Linked DNA regions of Homo sapiens. The protein of the gene in region 1 purifies or fractionates together with the protein of each later gene. This does not show direct contact. Each region holds a gene or a part of one and is shown on either strand. Other genes may lie near its edges.

The links. Proteins that work in one complex are often made in the same cells at the same time.
Region 2: the proteins of SLC9A5 (region 1) and PKN3 purify together in Homo sapiens (affinity purification with mass spectrometry; one large-scale study listed by BioGRID and IntAct). This does not show direct contact.
Region 3: the proteins of SLC9A5 (region 1) and VANGL2 purify together in Homo sapiens (affinity purification with mass spectrometry; one large-scale study listed by BioGRID and IntAct). This does not show direct contact.
Region 4: the proteins of SLC9A5 (region 1) and NUP155 purify together in Homo sapiens (affinity purification with mass spectrometry; one large-scale study listed by BioGRID and IntAct). This does not show direct contact.

What each region holds. Positions count from the first base shown.
Region 1 is NC_000016.10:67,251,182-67,256,217, reverse strand, and holds part of SLC9A5 (sodium/hydrogen exchanger 5 isoform 1 precursor), read right to left. Parts: intron 3,677-5,036; coding exon 3,374-3,676; intron 1,198-3,373; coding exon 1,034-1,197; intron 826-1,033; coding exon 747-825; intron 466-746; coding exon 288-465; intron 1-287. UniProt on the Homo sapiens protein: Plasma membrane Na(+)/H(+) antiporter. Mediates the electroneutral exchange of intracellular H(+) ions for extracellular Na(+) in 1:1 stoichiometry, thus regulating intracellular pH homeostasis, in particular in neural tissues.
Region 2 is NC_000009.12:128,708,235-128,712,502, reverse strand, and holds part of PKN3 (serine/threonine-protein kinase N3), read right to left. Parts: intron 1-4,268.
Region 3 is NC_000001.11:160,416,796-160,421,063, forward strand, and holds part of VANGL2 (vang-like protein 2), read left to right. Parts: intron 1-2,206; coding exon 2,207-2,814; intron 2,815-3,149; coding exon of another isoform or gene 3,150-3,198; exon of another isoform or gene 3,199-3,603; intron 3,604-3,615; coding exon 3,616-3,752; intron 3,753-4,256; coding exon 4,257-4,268. UniProt on the Homo sapiens protein: Involved in the control of early morphogenesis and patterning of both axial midline structures and the development of neural plate. Plays a role in the regulation of planar cell polarity, particularly in the orientation of stereociliary bundles in the cochlea.
Region 4 is NC_000005.10:37,287,637-37,291,874, forward strand, and holds the end of NUP155 (nuclear pore complex protein Nup155), read right to left. Parts: 3' UTR 501-4,238; downstream 1-500.

The sequences.
Region 1 (5,036 bases):
ACCTTCTGGAGTGCTGCGGCCTCCAGAGCTGGTGGCCCCAGGCCTTAAAGTCTACTTCCAGCCCAGCCTACACCCAGAGGGTTTCAGGGTGCTGAGGACAGCTCTGGGGGCAGCTCCTGAAATATTGCTGAGGTTTACTGACTCCCCAGGACAGTCTGAGGCTCCCACTACCACAAGGGCTCAGGGAAACCTATGGACTCCTGAAGTTCCTGCCTGTGTCCCTATGAGGGGCAACCATCTCCAGTGCCCCCTCCCAGCTATCTGCCTGCAAGGCCCCCAGAACTCACGCAAGAATGGCGGAGAGCGAGGCCATTTCAGCAGTGAGGTAGGCTGCGTAGGCGAGGAGGAAGACCAGCAGCGGCTCGATGATGCGGACCCGCTTGGTGAAGCGTGTGGTCAGGGCCAGGAGGAAGGCAAAGACTAAGCCCACGGCTGCCCCGCCCAGACTGACCACAAACAGGGAGGCTGGGGGAGGAGTGGGTTGTCAGCATGACCCCTGGCCCGGACCCTACCCGGGCTGACAAGACTGCTGCCTGGCAGGGAGTGAGGGATGATGCCCACCGCACTCCCAGGGGCTCAAAACCCCAGAGCCAGGATCCCTGGCAAGCCCCTCCCAGACCCCATTTCTCTATAGAGGAGATGAGGCAACCCGAATAGCCTCTTCTGTCCTGATGCGGGGTGGGAGGGCCTCAGCAACCCAGGGGAGGCAGACCTCCAATGCCAGCTGGGAGCGGGGAAATACTGACCGACTCCCTTCAGGTAGTCAGTGGCCTGCACATTGGCAGAGCCCATCTCCACAAAGGAGTTGCAGACCTTGTACAGCACCTGAGCGAGAAGAGGAGAGTCAGCAGTGAGGCGGGAAGGCAGCAACTGGGACTGCTGGGAGACAGACTGCTGGGAGAGCAGGGTGAAAGCAGACAGCATATTTCTGCCCCAGGGGACCCAAGGGAAGGGACTGAGTCTGCGCAGACCCCTAGTTGGTCAGAGCATGCAGCCTGGGGTCAGGGAATGGCAGTCAGCTGAGCACGCTCACCACGGTGACAGCATCGTTGAGCAGGGACTCGCCAAAGACGATGATAAAGAGAGTCTCATTGACGTGCACCTCCTCAAAGACAGCTAGCACGGCCACGGGGTCCACCGCCGAGATGAGGCTCCCAAACAGCAGGAAGTCCAGTAAGCCAGCCTGCACCCTAGGGGCTATTAAGGGACATGTGTAGGACAGGCCAGTCATTGAAGACGACCCAGTCTCCTGGAGCACGCCCTGGAACAAGCCCAGGCCCCACCCCTGCTGATAACAGCAAGGAAGCCCAAAGAGGACTTGGGATGGCAAAGACAGCATTAGCCTGCAGATCAGGAGACTTCAGTCAAGCTACCTATGCCTAAGGTCTGGCTTTGCCACTTACCAACTGTGTGATGCTGGTCCGTCACTGTCATGTGGCTCACCTTAGCCATGCCTCCTCATCTGCCTGCCTCACAAGATTGTTTCAAAACTCAACCCAGCCATTTGGAATAGGGAAAAAGCCCAGGTACAGTGACTCATGCCTGTAATCCCAGCACTTTGGGAGGCCGAGGTGGGCTGGATCACCTGAGGTCAGGAGTTCAAGACCAGCCTGGCCAACATGGTGAAACCCTGTCTCTACTAAAAATACAAAAAGTAGCCAGGCGCAGTGGTGCAGGCCTGTAATCCCAGCTACTTGGGAGGCTGAGGCAGGAGAATCACTTGAACCAGGGAGGCGGAGGCCGCAGTGAGCCGAGATTGTGCCACTGCACTCCAGCCTGGGTGACACAGTGAGACTCAGTCTCAAAAAATAATAATAAATAAAATAAAATAGGGAAAAAGCACTGTAGCAACAGTAATAATAACTACCAGCAAATGGAAATTGGCTGCTAACTATTTTTATTAGGGGGAATAACAAAAGAGAGTGCTTTCTCCCACACCTGTGGTTCCCGGCCAAAGGGATGTGACACAATTCTCAGCAGGTGTGGAGAACTGAATATAGTAAGAAAAGCAACACAGATCGGACTTGAATATGTCATATAATTTCTATGAGCCCCAGTTTCCCCATGTCTAAATTGAGACTAATAACAATATCTACCTCAAAAAGTTCCTTAGCCAATGCCTAACATATAGTAAGCACCCAAAAGATATTATTATCTATTACTGTTATTATGATCTGATGTCCTCCCTTCCCTTCCTGCCCCAAATAGTTCACTACCTCAATAGGGAAACCAGGTTAGAGTCCCAGGTAGCAATTGTAAACGTTTTCTTGTAATACCTTGGAAAAAGTGTGAATCATTAACCTTCAGGGTTGAATGAATTTCTTGGGTTAGGAAATAAAGAAGGTAGCAAGAGAGGGCAACCTAAAGGCAAAGAGCCTCAGTAAAACAGACCTGGGGCCAGGCGTGGTGGCTCATGCCTATAATCCTAGCACTTTGACAGGTTGAGGTGGGCAGATCACCTGAGCTCAGCAGTTCAAGACCAGCCTGGCCAACATGGCGAAACCCCATCTCTACTAAAAATACAAAAATTAGCTGGGCATAGTGACATGTGCTTGTAATCCCAGCTACTCAGGAGGCTAAGACAGGAGAATTGCTTGAACCCAGGAGGTGGAGGTTGCAGTAAGCCAAGATCATGCCATTGCACTCTAGCCTGGACAAGAGTGAGACTCCATCTCAAAAAAACAAGCAACAACAACAACAACAAACACGGACCTCTTCTGCTAACCTTGGACCTGATAGCAAACAAATGCAAGGGGTTCTATTTCCTCATGTGTAAATGTGACAAACTACACAAAAGGGTTGCTATGAAGAGTCAGTGGGATAAGTAAGGAGAGAAAACCCAGTGTAGTGCCAGCATTTGATGGATTTATAATATTTATTTTTTAAATATCTATTTATTTATTTAAAAAAATAAATGTTTAAAATAATGAATTTCTTATAGACAACATATAGTTAAGAAAAAAAAATAATAATAAAAACAGAAAACCACCCAGACCTGGCCTGGGGAGAGCCAGGACAGCAGGCCCTTGCAGAAATGATGCACAGCTATGCCTCAGGGGAGACGGGCTGGCAAATGGCAATGTGGTAACAGAGGGCAGGAGGCAACAGAATGGTAACACAGGCTCCCCAGCCTTGGCAGCCCACATACAGCTGGGAGCCAGACTCCTGCTCAGCTGTTATGCTGCAGAAGCCCAGACTGGCAGAGACCTCAATGAGGCCTGAACCCCAGCGGGAGCACTGCCTTGCACTCCAGAGGGAGGGACCTAGGATGGAGCTTTCAGGGCATGGCTCACACCAGCATGGGCCTCCAGAGCTTGAGGAGAAGGGAGAGGGGTGATGGGTCTGGCAAAGCCCAGGTCTTAGGGTCACTCACCTACAAGTCCAGCCTGCTGCAAGCCCCAGAGGGCAGCGCCTGTTGTGAAGGCATTCCAGAGTGTGCCTACCACGGCATAGGTGAGGATGGCACCCAAGTTGTCAAAGAACAGCCTGCTAGGCATGAAATAGCCTGAGTCCAACACAATAGGAGGCAGCAGGAAGAGGAAGAAGGTGCCTGGCTCCAGCTGGTACTCAGCTTTCTTGGCCACAGCCAAAACAATTCCCCCTAGCACCAGGCCCAGCAAAATCAGCAGGCAGCTCTCAGGGACCAGAGATGTTACTTTCCGAGACAGGTGAAACACTGCAATGCAAAAAGAGTGCAGGATGGATCAGTTTATGGAATATCCTCCCACACACAGGCCTATGAACTCCCAGTTTTGTTTTTTTTTTTTTGAGATGAAGTCTCACTCTGTTGCCCAAGCTGGAGTGCAGTAGCACAATCTCAGCTCACTGCAACCTTCACCTCCCGGGTTCAAGTGATTCTCCTGCCTCAGCCTCCTGAGTACGGGGACTACAGACACGCGCCACCATGCCCAGATAATTTTTTTTATATTCTTAGTAGAGACAGGGTTTCACTATGTTGGCCAGGCTGGTCTTGAACTCCTGACCTCATGATCCGCCCACCTTGGCCTCCCAAAGTGCTGGGATTACAGGTGTGAGCCACCGCGCCTGGCCAACCTTCTAAGACTGGGACCAAGGGAGGAGAAATATGCAAGACTTCTAGAATTTCCAATCTCCAGGGCTACAAACCCTCCCCTGCAGTCAAAGTCATCTGTTTCTTAGTGCTCCTGTCACACTATGGTAACCTAGGCCTTTACTGCTTTTTCCCCTTCTAGAAATGTCCCTTCCTTTATACTTTCATCCTCAGGGGACCTCACCTTTCTCTGACAACCCTTATCCATAGCCATTATTTGAACCTCAGCTAATGCTACCCAGTATCTTTTTATATGTAAGAAAGCTGTAAAAATCAGGGTCTTTGGAGTCAAGTTGCTTGGATTCAAAGCTTAGTTCTGTGATCTTAGGGCAAATAACTTCATGTCTCTGACTCAGTTTTCTCATCAGTGAAATGGGAGTAAAAACGATAATGATCTCATAAGATTATTGTGACCATTAAAAAAGACAATCTACAGGCGGGGCGCGGTGGCTCATGCCTGTAATCCCAGCACTTTGGGAGGCCAAAGTGGGCAGATCACCTGAGGTCAGGAGTTCTGGATCAGCCTGGCCAGCACGGCGAAACCCTGTCTCTACTAAAAATACAAAAATTAGCTGGGCATGGTGGCGGGTGCCGGTAGTCCCAGCTACTTGGGAGACTGAGGCAGGAGAATCACTTGAACCTGGGAGGCAGAGGTTGCAGTGAGCCGAGATCATGCCACTGTACTCCAGCCTGGGTGACAGAGTGAGACTCTGTCTCAAAAAAAAAAAAAAAAAAAAAAAAAAAAGACAATCTACTCAAAAGCACTTAGCACACTACTTTACAGTAAGCACTCAATAAATGTTACCTATTATAATGTCCTCACTCCTTAACTAGACCAGAATGTATATTATACCTCCTAGGAGCTGTGTAGACTTCCTAGCCCAATGTGCTTTTCATTATATGGGCTCACTCAGGACTGCGTAGTTTTTAAAACTTTGGCTTTAGCAATCAGAAGATCTCCAGGTCT
Region 2 (4,268 bases), on another chromosome or scaffold:
CTGGGCCTCAGTTTCCCCATCTGAACAGTGGAGGTGAGTCCCAGCTCTGCCCCACCTCTCCCAATGGATATGAAACGTGTTTTGTCAACGGAGTAAGTTCATGTGTCACGTCACTAGAGGGTTGTCCCTCAAAGGGTAGAGAAAGCAGTGGGGATCTAGCAGCTTTTGAGGACACGAAGCAGGCCCAAGAGTATCATTTAGGGAGAGTCTGGGCCTGGGGGTTACACACAGAGAGAACTTGTAAACAAAGGCAGGGGTCCAGGGTAGAAAGAGAAGCTTAGAAAGAACAGCTCGGCCGGGCGCAGTGGCTCATGCCTGTAATCCCAACACTTTGGGAGACCAAGGCAGGCAGATCACCTGAGGTCAGGAGTTCAAGCCCAGCCTGACCAACATGGCGAAACCCCATCCCAACTAAAAATACAAAAACCAGCCGGGCATGATGGTGGGCACCTGTAATCCCAGCTACTCGGAAGGCTGAGGCAGGAGAATCACTTGAACCCGGGAGGCAGAGGTTGCAGTGAGCCAATATTGTGCCATTGCACTCCAGCCTGGGCGACAGAGCAAGACTCCAGCTCAAAAAAAAACAAACAAAACAAAAACTTGAGGCCGGGCGTGGTGGCTCACACCTGTAATCCCAGCACTTTGGTAGGCTGAGGCAGGTGGATCACCTGAGGTCGGGAGTTCGAGACCAGCCTGGCCAACATGGTGAAACTCTGTCTCTACTAAAAATACAAATATTAGCCGGGCATGGCGGTGGGCGCCTGTAATCCCAACTACTTGGGAGGCTGAGGCAGGAGAATCGCTTGAACCTGGGAGGCGGAGGTTGCAGTGAGTCAAGATTATGCCACTGCACTCCAGCCTGGGCGACAAAGCAAGACTCTGTCCCCCACCCCCCCCAAAAAAAAGGCCGGGCGTGGTGGCTCACACCTGTAATCCCAGCACTTTGGGAGGCCGAGGTGGGCAGATCACGAGGTCAGGAGATCAAGACCATGGTGAAACCTCGTCTCTACTAAAAATACAAAAAATTAGCCGGGCGCAGTGGCGGGCGCCTGTAGTTAGTCCCAGCTACTCGAGAGGCTGAGGCAGAAGAATGGCGTGAACCCGGGAGGCAGAGCTTGCAGTGAGCCGAAATCACACCACTGCAATCCGGCCTGGGCGACAGAGCAAGACTCTGTCTCCAAAAAAAAAAAAAAAAGAGGTGGGGCGAGGTGGCTCACGCCTGTAATCCCAGCACTTTGGGAGGCCAAGGCGGGCAAATCACCTGAGGTCGGAAGTTCGAGACCAGCCTGACCAACATGGAGAAATCCCATCTCTACTGAAAATATAAAAATTCGCCAGGTGTGGTGGTACATGCCTGTAATCCCAGCTATTCAAGAGGCTGAGGCAGGAGAATTGCTTGAACCCGGGAGGCGGAGGTTGCAGTGAGCCAAGATTGCGCCACTGCACTCCAGTCTGGGCAATAAGATCGTGTCACTGCACTCCAGCCTGGGCAATAAGAGCAAAACTCCATCTCAAAAAAAAAAAAGGACAACTCAAGTATCTGGGGTGTTTAGCCAGGGGACAGGATATGGGGTGGCCTTGAGTAGTTGACTTCTAGGCCTTTTAACAAGCTGTTTCTTCTGCGTTCCTCAACTTGTCTACTTGGCCATAAGTACTCCCGTGTAAGTCCTTCAAGGCCAAGACACCACCTCCTCTAGAAAACATTCCTTGGGCCGGGCATGGTTGGCTCACGCCTGTAATCCCAGCACTTTGGGAGGCCAAGGCAGATGGATCACCTGAGGTCAGGAGTTTGAGACCAGCCTGGCCAACATGGCAAAACTCTGTCTCTACTAATAATACAAAAATTAGCCAGGCATGGTGGTGCAGGCCTGTAATCCCAGCTACTCGGGAAGCTGAGGCAGGAGAATTGCTTGAACCCAGGAGGCGGAGGTTGCAGTGAGCTGATATCGCACCACTGCACTCCAGTCTGGGCGACAGTGCGAGACTCCATCTCAAAAAAAAAAGAAAAGAAAATATTCCTCGATTCCCCAAGGCCAGGTGAGAGGGCTCCATCCAGAGCCTGCATTTCCTCTTCTCAGCTCTGCTCACAATGGAATGGGGTCAGTCGGCCCTGTAGCAGTGCTCTGTGGAGACAGGCACTGGCCTTTCCAGCTCTCACTGTATCTCGGTGGGATACAGCTTCAAAGCCCATGCTCTCAGATTATTTGTTGATGATGATTTGGCTGCTGCTACAAGGAGACAGATCTCAGTGCAAGATAAGAAAATTAACTTTTTTGGCCGGGCGCGGTGGCTCACACCTGTCCCAGCACTTTGGGAGGCCTAGGCCGGCAGATCACAAGGTCAGGCGATCGAGACCATCCTGGCTAACACGGTGAAACCTTGTCTCTACTAAAAATACAAAAACAAAAAATTAGCCAGGTGTGGTGGCGGGCACCTGTAGTCCCAGCTACTCGGGAGGCTGAGACAGGAGAATGGCATGAATCCGGGAAGAGGAGCTTGCAGTGAGCCGAGATCGCGCCACTGCACTCCAGCCTGGGTGACAGAGCTCAGAGTCTCACTCTGCTCGGAGTCTCACTCTGTTTGGAGTCTCACTCTGTCACCCAGGCTGGAGTGCAGTGGCACAATCTCAGCTCACTGCAAGCTCCGCCTCCCAGGTTCATGCCATTCTCCCACCTCAGCCTCCCGAGTAGCTGGGACTACAGGCGCCCGCCACCACACCCAGCTAATTTTTGCAAATTTTTTTTTTTTTTGAGACAGAGTTTTGCTCTTGTTGCCCAGGCTGGATTCCAATGGTGCCATCTTGGCTCACTGCAACCTCCACCTCCCGGGTTCAAGCAATTCTCCTGCTTTAGCCTCCTGAGTAGCTGGGATTATAGGCATGCACCACCAGGCCCGGCTAATTTTGTATTTTTTAGTAGAGACGGGGTTTCTCCATTTTTGTCAGGCTGCTCTCGAACTCCCGACCTCAGGTGATCCACCCACCTCGGCCTCCCAAAGTGCTGAGATTACAGGCATGAGCTGCCGTGCCCAGCCTAATTTTTTTTTTTTGAGACGGGCTCTCTGTTGCCCAGGCTGGAGTGCAGTGGCGCGATCATGGCTCATTGTACCCTCAACCTCCCTGGGCTCAAGCAATCCTCCCACCTCAGCCTCCCAAGTAGCTGGGACTACAGGTACGTACCATCATACCTGGCTAATTTTTTTATTTTTTTATTTTTTTTTGAGACAGAGTCTCGCTGTGGCCCAGGCTGGAGTGCAGTGGTGCGATCTCGGCTCACTGTAGGCTCCGCCCCCCGGGGTTCCCGCCATTCTCCTGCCTCAGCCTCCCGAGTAGCTGGGACTACAGGCGCCCGCCACCACGCCCGGTTAATTTTTTGTATTTTTAGTGGAGACAGGGTTTCACCGTGTTAGCCAGGATGGTCTCGATCTCCTGACCTCGTGATCCGCCCGCCTCGGCCTCCCAAAGTGCTGGGATTACAGGCGTGAGCCACCGCGCCCGGCGATTTTTGTATTTTTTGTAGAGATGGAGCTTTGTCATGTTGCCCAGGCTGGTTTCAAACTCCTGGACTCAAGTGATCCACATGCCTCACCCTCCTAAACTGCTAGGATTATAAACATGAGCCACTGAGCCAGACCAGAAAACTCTTTCTTTTTTTTTTTTTCTTGAAAGAGTTTTGCTGTGTCACCCACGCTGGAGTGCAACAGTGCAATCTTGGCTTACTGCAACCTCTGCCTCCCAGGTTCAAGCAATTCTCTTGCCTCAGCCTCCCCAGTAGATGGGATTACAGGCATGCGCCACCACGCCCGGCTAATTTTTTTTGTTTCTAAAGATGAGGTTTCACTATGTTGCCCAGGCTCGTCTAGAAATCCTGGGCTCAAATGATTCGTCCACCTCAGCCTCCCAAAGTGCTGGAATTACAGGCTTGAGCCACTGTGCCCAGCCAAGAAAACTTTCTTTTTTTCTTTTTTTTTTGAGACTGGGTCTCAAAAAAACTCCTGAGCTCAAGCAATCTTCCCACCTCAGCCTCTCAAAGTGCCAGGATTATAGGTGTGAGCCACTGCACCCAGCAATTTTAGTTTAATTTTATTATTTTTTTTCCAAGGAAATTATTATTATTATTTTTTGAGATGGAGTCTTGCCCTGTTACCTAGGCTGAAGTGCAGCGGCGCAATCTCAGCTCACTGCAACCTCACCTCCTGGGTTCAAGCAATTCTCCTGCCTTAGCCTCCCGAGTGGCTGGGACTACAGGCATGTGCCACCACATCCAGCT
Region 3 (4,268 bases), on another chromosome or scaffold:
TGGGCAGAACACAGTCCTGGAATAGGGCAGAGGCAGGATTTTAGGTGACACTGAGGTTGCCCAAGTCTCATTCCCCTTGGGATCATCTTTGGGGGCTGGAGATTCCCAGCTCCTTTTTCCTCAGAAGAAATCTCTGTGGCTGACATTGGGAATTCCTGGGCCTTGGGAGCAGGTCAATACCTGAAGGAAATGTTCTTTTTCCCTCTCTCCCAATCCCTTCTTCCTGGGGCCTGGCCTCCTGAGTTCTTGAAGTGACCCTGAGACATGACCAGCTCACCTGCTACTGGGGAGGAGATCCCAAGCCCTTGGTCCTTGGAGGGGGTGGGCAGTATGTCTAGGGGTCAGAGGGCGGGGAGCAGACCCAGGGCTTTGAGCTGAAGGCAGTCAGTGCATCTGCTTTCTATCTTCACATCAGACTCGTTCCCCATCCTGTAGAGAGGAGGTTCCTCAACCTCCCTAATCACTGGTGCTGTCGGGCTGCCTTCATCCTGTAACCTCAACCTCCTGGGTGTCAGGTTGTGATTCCATATCCCCAGGCTGTCCCAGGAGCGAAGGGTGGGTGCTGAAGGCAGCTGGTGGTCTTGGGACTCCTCCGTGGGATGGCCTCCAGCCACTGCAGAGAAACAGCTTGAGCAGACCACACTTAGAGGGACACCTGGGGACCTCAGCCTGGCCACCTTCTTGCCTCCAGAGACAGGTAGCCTCTGCACTGTAGACATTTAGATGGCCCAGCAGAGGTGGCCTTGCAGACCAGAGACCCAGAGTGGCCTTGAGTCTGCACAGTGTCCTTCACGCCTTCACCCCTTTACCCCTGGGGTCTTCTGTTCTTCTCTGTGCTGCTTTGATCAGGTTTACTCCTTCAGTGGCTCTCCATGCCTGGAGAACAGGTGCTTATTGCCCAGCCCAGCACTGCAGCGTGGCCTGCACAAGCCCTGCCTGGCTGCTGTCTGCCTTACCTTCCTGGTTGCACCTTGCTGTGCTTCTGCACAGGGATCCTCTGCTCTCATAGCCCTTGGGTGCCTCAGTTCATGCCATTCCTGCCCTGGAGGCTCCTCCTCTAGCTTCTGCCAAAATCATGGCATGCTGGAAGGAACTTAGATAGGACTTCCATAATTTTTTTTTTTTTTTTTTTTGAGATGGAGTTTCGCTCTTGTTGCCCAGGCTGGAGTGCAATGGCACGATCTCTGCTCACCACAACCTCCTCCTCCTGGGTTCAAGCGATTCTCCTGCATCAGCCTCCCGAGTAGCTGGGATTACAGGCATGTGCCACCACACCCAGCTAATTTTTTGTGTGTGTGTGTTTTTAGTAGAGATGGGATTTCTCCATGTTGGTCAGGCTGGTCTCGAACTCCCGACCTCAGGCGATCTGCCCACCTCGGCCTCCCAAAGTGCTGGGATTACAGGCGTGAGCCACCGTGCCCAGCAGGACTTCCAGAATTAATGTTAATGTTTGAGTGATTCATGTGGATCTTGTTAAAATGCAGATTTGGTTCAGTAAACATGCGGTGGGCCTGAGGTTCCGCCTTTCTAACAAGCTCCCAGGTGATGTCCACACCGCTGGTCCACAGATCACATTTTAAGTAGCCAGCCAGCCCTTAGAAATCATTTAGTTCAGTGATTCTCAATCTTGGATGACCATTACAATCATCTGGGGAGTTTTTTGTTTTTTTTTTTTAAAGGTTCACAAGCAGATTGCACTCTCCAATAATTAGCATTATTTTCCAACTTCCCTAAGTGTTCTAATGTGTGCATCTGGGATTGAGAACATCTTCCTTGGAGCCCCCTTCCCCCAAGGATCAGCTCAGGTCCCACGGTTTCTGGAAGCCTGCCTGCTTTGCTTGGCGAGTTTGCCCTTGGATCCCAGTCACTGCCTGAGCAGCATCTTCAGCATTTGTCCTGTGCTGTCTGCTCTGAGGGTCATTGCCGCATGTGTGGTTTTTTCCTCTCTCACTGACCAGTGTCCAGCTCCCCGAGGGCTCGGGTCTTGGATTTGGCCATCTGCAGAGGCCAGACTTTGACACACATTGGAGCTCAGTAAATACTTTGATGGTTGCGTATTTGTTGATTACCCTCTCTTCTTTCTGCCTTCTCCTTTCCCATGTGTTCTTCTCTGTCTCCTGTCCCCTCACCCTTTCTCCTGTTTCCCTCCTCTTCCTCTTCTTATCCTTTCCTCCTTATTGTGTGGCTGGCCCCCTTCTGCCTGTAGGATGACAACTGGGGGGAAACGACGACAGTAGTAACGGGCACCTCAGAGCACAGCATCTCCCATGATGACCTCACACGCATCGCCAAGGACATGGAGGACAGTGTCCCTCTGGACTGCTCCCGTCACCTGGGTGTGGCAGCGGGGGCCACCCTGGCACTGCTGTCTTTCCTCACGCCTCTGGCCTTCCTGCTGCTGCCCCCACTGCTGTGGCGGGAGGAGCTGGAGCCTTGCGGGACGGCCTGCGAGGGCCTCTTCATCTCTGTCGCCTTCAAGCTGCTCATCCTGCTACTGGGCAGCTGGGCTCTGTTCTTCCGCCGGCCCAAGGCCTCGCTGCCCCGCGTCTTTGTGCTGCGTGCCCTGCTTATGGTGCTGGTTTTCCTGCTCGTGGTCTCCTACTGGCTCTTCTATGGTGTGCGCATCCTGGATGCTCGGGAGCGCAGCTACCAGGGCGTGGTGCAGTTCGCCGTGTCGCTGGTGGACGCCCTTCTTTTCGTGCACTACCTGGCCGTGGTCCTGCTGGAGCTGCGCCAGCTCCAGCCTCAGTTCACGCTCAAGGTCGTGCGCTCCACCGACGGCGCCAGCCGCTTCTACAACGTTGGCCATCTCAGGTACTAGCCCACGGCTGGAGAAGGGTTGGGAGGGAAAGGGCATGGGAGGATGTGGAGTGACTGCTAGGGTGGGAGGGTATGATGGTGGGCTGGAGGTGATGGGCTTGGAGGGTTGTGTGGGAGGGAGTTGAGTACTTTGCACCAAGTAGGTTTTCACCAATGTTTGCTGCTTGATAGGCAGGTTCATGTACACGGTCTTGGGGCAAGATCAGTTGGGAGTTATGAGATGGGAATGAATAGGCATTTAGAGGTAGGGAATATTAGAGGGGGATGGACCAAAGGGAAGAAATATGGGGGGGTGCACAAACAGGGGCTTTTTGGAATCCCTTTTCTAGTCCTTTCTGGGAGGCGCAGCTTCTTGTGAGCACTCAGAGTGGCCTGTGAAGTGACCTGGCCAGAGGAGGGATCCCCAGAGAAAGAGATAAGGAGGAGAGTTCTTCAGCTCCCAGTAAACAAGCTACCCCTCGAGGCCACACAGAATATCAGTGGCACGTCCTGGGTCCTGTAGAGGATCTTGGGGGAACGCTGAATGGGGATGAGGTGATCTTTGGCTGGGGACCCAGGCCCAATGCCCTTTCTCTGCTAGGCTTTGGCATGGTGGGGAGGGACTGGCAGGCCCAGCCCTGGGAAAGGCTTGGGAGCCTGGTAAGTAGACCTCAGGCCCGGAGTCAGGCTTCTCGGAAGCAGCTTGTCCCTGTCCTGTGTCCTCTCCTGCCCTGCCAACCTGCCCTAATGTGTCCCTTTCCCCTGTGCCCCTTGGTCTGTCCCTTCTCCCACCCCCTCCTGCCGTCTCCCCCACAGCATCCAGCGCGTGGCAGTGTGGATCCTGGAGAAGTATTACCATGACTTCCCTGTCTACAACCCTGCCCTCCTCAACCTGCCCAAGTCCGTCCTGGCCAAGAAAGTGTCTGGCTTCAAGGTGTATTCCCTCGGAGAGGGTGAGCAGCCCTGCTCCTCTGCCCTTCCCTGTCTCTTCCCAAGCAGGACTCCAAGTTCCCGCCTCTCTTTTACCCTTTGTCCCTTGCTTTTTCCTTTCCTTAGCCCATGTTCTAGCCGCTTCTATTCAGTCATTTCCCTTGACTCCAGGTGGCTGATCTTAGCTGCTCATCCTACTTGCTGTCCCTTTATGCTATGGCATGTCCCCTGATCTGGCTCCTCTGTGTCTCTCATCAGCCCTGGTCTAAGCCCTTTGGCTCTCGGAGCTGCAGAACCCCCTGCACTGGGGAGGAACAACTGCAGGACTCTTGCGCTTCCAGTGCCTTCCTTGTTGCTTTCCTATGGCCTCTCCCAGAGGTGGCCAGGAGGGTTGGGATTAGGAGGTATTGCTGGGTGGTGGGAACAGCTTCTTCTGGACATGTCAGGCTGCTGTCTCCAGAGCTCCTGGAGTGGGAAGAGAGGCCACACTCTGATGTGACCATCTCCTCTATCCTGTTCCTGTGCAGAAAACAGCACCA
Region 4 (4,238 bases), on another chromosome or scaffold:
TTCAGGTTTGGTTGTTTTGACAGAGGTGCTTTAGGGGGTCATTTCTAATGTGGGTTGAAAACATACATGGGGATCCCGGATCCCACATGGTAAATTGATTTTGTTTTGTTTTTGAGACCAAGTCTTCCTCTGTCGCCCAGGCTGGAGTGCAGTGGTGTGGGATTTCAGCTCACTGCACCTCTGTCTCCAAGGTTCAAGTGATTCTCATGCCTCAGCCTCCCAAGTAGCTGGGACTACAGGCACCCACCACCACACCCGGCTAACTTTTTTGTATTTTTGGTAGAGACGGGGTTTCACCATGTTGGTCAGGCTGGTCTCAAACTCCTGACCTCAGGTGATCTACCTGCCTTGGCCTCCCAAAGTTCTGGGATTACAGGTGTAAGACACTGCACCTGGCCCTTGATTGATTTTTAAAGTTTTATTATTTGGCTTCAATCTCATTTATATATGAGGAAAACGAAGCTCAGAAGAGTTTCAATGATTTAATGGAAGACTTAAAATATTAGAAAAAAGTTTTATTCTTAAGAGAATTTAAAAGAAGACATTAATAGAAAATGAAAAGAAATTGTGAACCCTTTCAAAACCTTTCAATTCAATGTTCTAGTTCTTCATTTCCTTGATACAACTCTGTACCATGGTCATAATTTTTCCGTCTCATGAATAGGAGGAAAAATGACAGGAATGGAGACTACCCTGAGGAATACTTTTGAGATCAGTGGATAGGTGTTCAATGAATAAGTCAGGTATACCTAAAGAAACACTAAATGTACATGTACATCAGTCAGTATCTCATAGCATAAACAGTTAGTCAAGATAGCTTTCTCTTTCCTAACCGTTTTGCCATACTACAATGATCTAGTTAAAATACAAATTTCACAACTTCAATGATTCTTCACTGCCCACAATTAACGCACTGTTTCATAGACTATGTTCTACCAATTATACATTGCCTACATATAATAGTCACTATAAAGAAATAATGGACAGGCATGGTGGCTCATGCCTATAATCCCAGCACTTTGGGAGACTGAGGCAGGGGAATCACTTAAGGCCAGGAGTTTTGAGAGCAGTCTGGGCAACAGAGTGAGATCTTTTGGCTACACAAAAAATTAAAAAAAAAAAAAAAAAAAAAGTAGGGGGGGTGGGGCTAGGCGCAGTGGCTCATGCCTGTAATCCCAGCTCTTTGGGAGGCCAAGGGGGGTGGATCACCTGAGGTCAGGAGTTCAAGACCAGCCTGACCAACACGGTGAAACCCCATCTCTACTAAAAATACAAAAAAAAAAAATTAGCCAGGCATGGTGGCGCATGCCTGTAATCTCAGCTACTCGGGAGGCTGAGGCAGAAGAATTGCTTGAACCCAGGAAGTGGAGGTTGTGGTGAGCCAAGATCGTGCCATTGCACTCCAGCCTGGGCAACAAGAGCAAAACTCAGTCTCATAAAAAAGGCTGTGGTGAGCCAAGATTGTGCCATTGCACTCCAGCCTGGGCAACAAGAGCAAAACTCAGTCTCAAACAAACAAACAGACAATAGCAGGGTGTAGCAGCACGTGCCTGTAGTCCCAGCTATTTAAGAGGATGAGGTGGGAAGACTGAGTTGAGCCCAGGAGCTCGAGGCTGCAGTGAGCCAAGATCATGCCACTGCACTCCAGGGCAAGCCCTTGTCTTCAAAAAACAAAAAAATTCAAAAAAGTAATGCGTTGAACAAACACCAAGTACAAAGTATACTAATACAGTGGATAAATGCTACTCCAACTCTGATCCACTGACTGCCAGGATCAGCATGACACTACAGATGGAACTCAAGAATCTGTCATAACAGGCTATCCGGCTGATTGTTCTGAATGTGAAAGTTTTAGAAACACTGTTCCAAGGGTAAAAATGAGGGGACCTAATTTCTTCTCTCTTAGGAATCTTACCCCCCAAAAGGTATTGCAAGCATCTGTTGTGGGGCTGGAATTCCTAAAACCTCTCAAAGCATGCTGTGTGAATAAAAGGACAGTGTTCAGATTTCTGACTCTAACAGACCATCTAACCATGGAAGCCTACAGCCCTTTTAAAACATGTACTTTCAATGTTGTGAGCTGAGTATATATAACAACATATTGCTAGTATGTAAATGTGCTTAAAACAAAAATGAAGTTCTTATCTCTAGCAGAACTGGAGTCACACCTAAATTACAACATTCAGACAAGGCCTTCCTTTTAAGTAGACATGACAGAATTTTAAATTTATAAAACGAATTAATGTATCGCATACATTCACTTTACATATTCAAAAAACGCTAAACTTAAGAAACTGAAAAGTTGAAAAATAAGAGGTAGTAGTACCCACTGAGTGACGTTCTGGCATTCTATTAAATATTCTACATTAGAAGATTATAGGGAAAAGGGAGCTGAATTCTAAGAGAACAAATGTAGAGAAGGCAACCCTATGGTCTTGGGAAAAGACAATAATGGAAGGAAAAATATATTCAAAATGTATTGTACAAATTGTTAGACATGCATCACTTACAATAAACAGAAGGTAATTATTTGTGGTAGCATAAAGAGAGAAGGGAATAGGCCAGGCACATTGGCTCACGTCTGTAATCTCAACACTTTGGGAGGTGGAGGCGGGCAGATCACTTGAGGTCAGGAGTTCAAGACCAGCCTGGCCAACATGGTGAAACCCATCTCTACTAAAAATACAAAAATTAGCTGGGTATGGTGGCGCACACCTGCAATCCCAGCTACTCGAGAGGCTGAGGCAGGCAAATTGCTTCAAACCTGTGAGGCAGAGGTTGCAGTGAGCCGGGATCGCACCACTGCACTCCAGGCTGGGCTACAGGGTGAGATTCTGTCTCCAAAAAAAAAAAAAAGAGAGAAAGGAATAGAGTGTTTTGTTAGCTCTGGTCATTCCCACTCTTCTTCTCTCTTGTTGCTATTACTTTGAAGCATTTGGTTTGGTTATTCTATTTTGTTAAGGAATAATTAAAAAGTACATTACTAACAGTTTTGCTTTATATATTGTGTGCCTTGGGCAAAATTTGTGTGTGTGGTTATTCACAGAGGAGGAGCCAGATAGGTAGCTCAGTCCATAAACTATGGAAGGTAGCAGTATCCTTTACTGCAGTGGCTTTCAAATTTGACATGCACCAAAATCTCCTGGAGAGCTTGTTAAAACATAGAAAGCAGGGCCTCATCCCCCACGTTTTTGATTCAGTAGGTCTGGGTTGGGGCTCGAGAATTTGCATTTCTAACAAATTCCTAGGTGATGCTGATGCTGATGCTGATGCTTCTGGTTTGGAGCACATACTTTGAGAACCACTGCTCTAATGGAATCAGTAGTCACAAGGCCAAGCAGCCAGGTAGACACTAAGGGAAAACAGTACCTCCCTGTGTAGGTTTTCAGGACACAACATTAGTTACAAGTTTTATCACCTGCTCAACCAGGTATATAGCTATGTCAATTCTCAAGGGCTTTAACTGACAAAACCAGTTGTTAGAGGACAGTTCTTTCAAGGGTGAACCCAACACCTAAAAAAAGTTTTGAAAAAGTCAGTTATTTGCCTATTTAAGGACGGTTTTAGAATCCACTATTATGGGAATGGATCTGCTTAGCCTATTTGAGGTTTTTTTGTTTTTTGAGACAGAGTCTCGCCCTGTTGCCTGGGCTGGAGTGCAATGGTGCGATTTTGACTCACTGAAACCTCTGCCTCCCGGGTTCAAGTGATTCGCCTCCCTCAGCCTCCCGAGTAGCTGGGATTACAGGCGCCCGCCACCACGCCTGGCTATTTTTTTTTGTATTTTTAGTAGAGATGGGGTTTCACCATGTTGGCCAGGTTGGTCTCAAACTCTTGGCCTCGTGATTCGCCCACCTTGGCCTCCCAAAGTGCTGGGATTACAGGTGTAAGTCACTGTGCCTGGCCGCCTAGTGGAGTTTTAATGCCAATATCCTTGGACTAACTTGAAAATGAATAATATAAATTCGAAATTTCTGCCTGCAGTACAATTCAAAATAAGAGTTTCTAAATTTTTTTAATCCTTATGTTAAAATAATAAATAATCTCATTTCAGTTGTTTTTTCACCCAATTACTAAAAAACAAAATAGTCATAAAAAAGAATTCATTTAGCAAAGGTACTATTTGTAGATATTAGCCACTTATTAAAAACATATTTCTATTAAGATTGTTCTTACATTCTTAGATTTAGAACACCTGATATCTGGACCCAGCTGAGTTTTTATTTTACAGATCATAA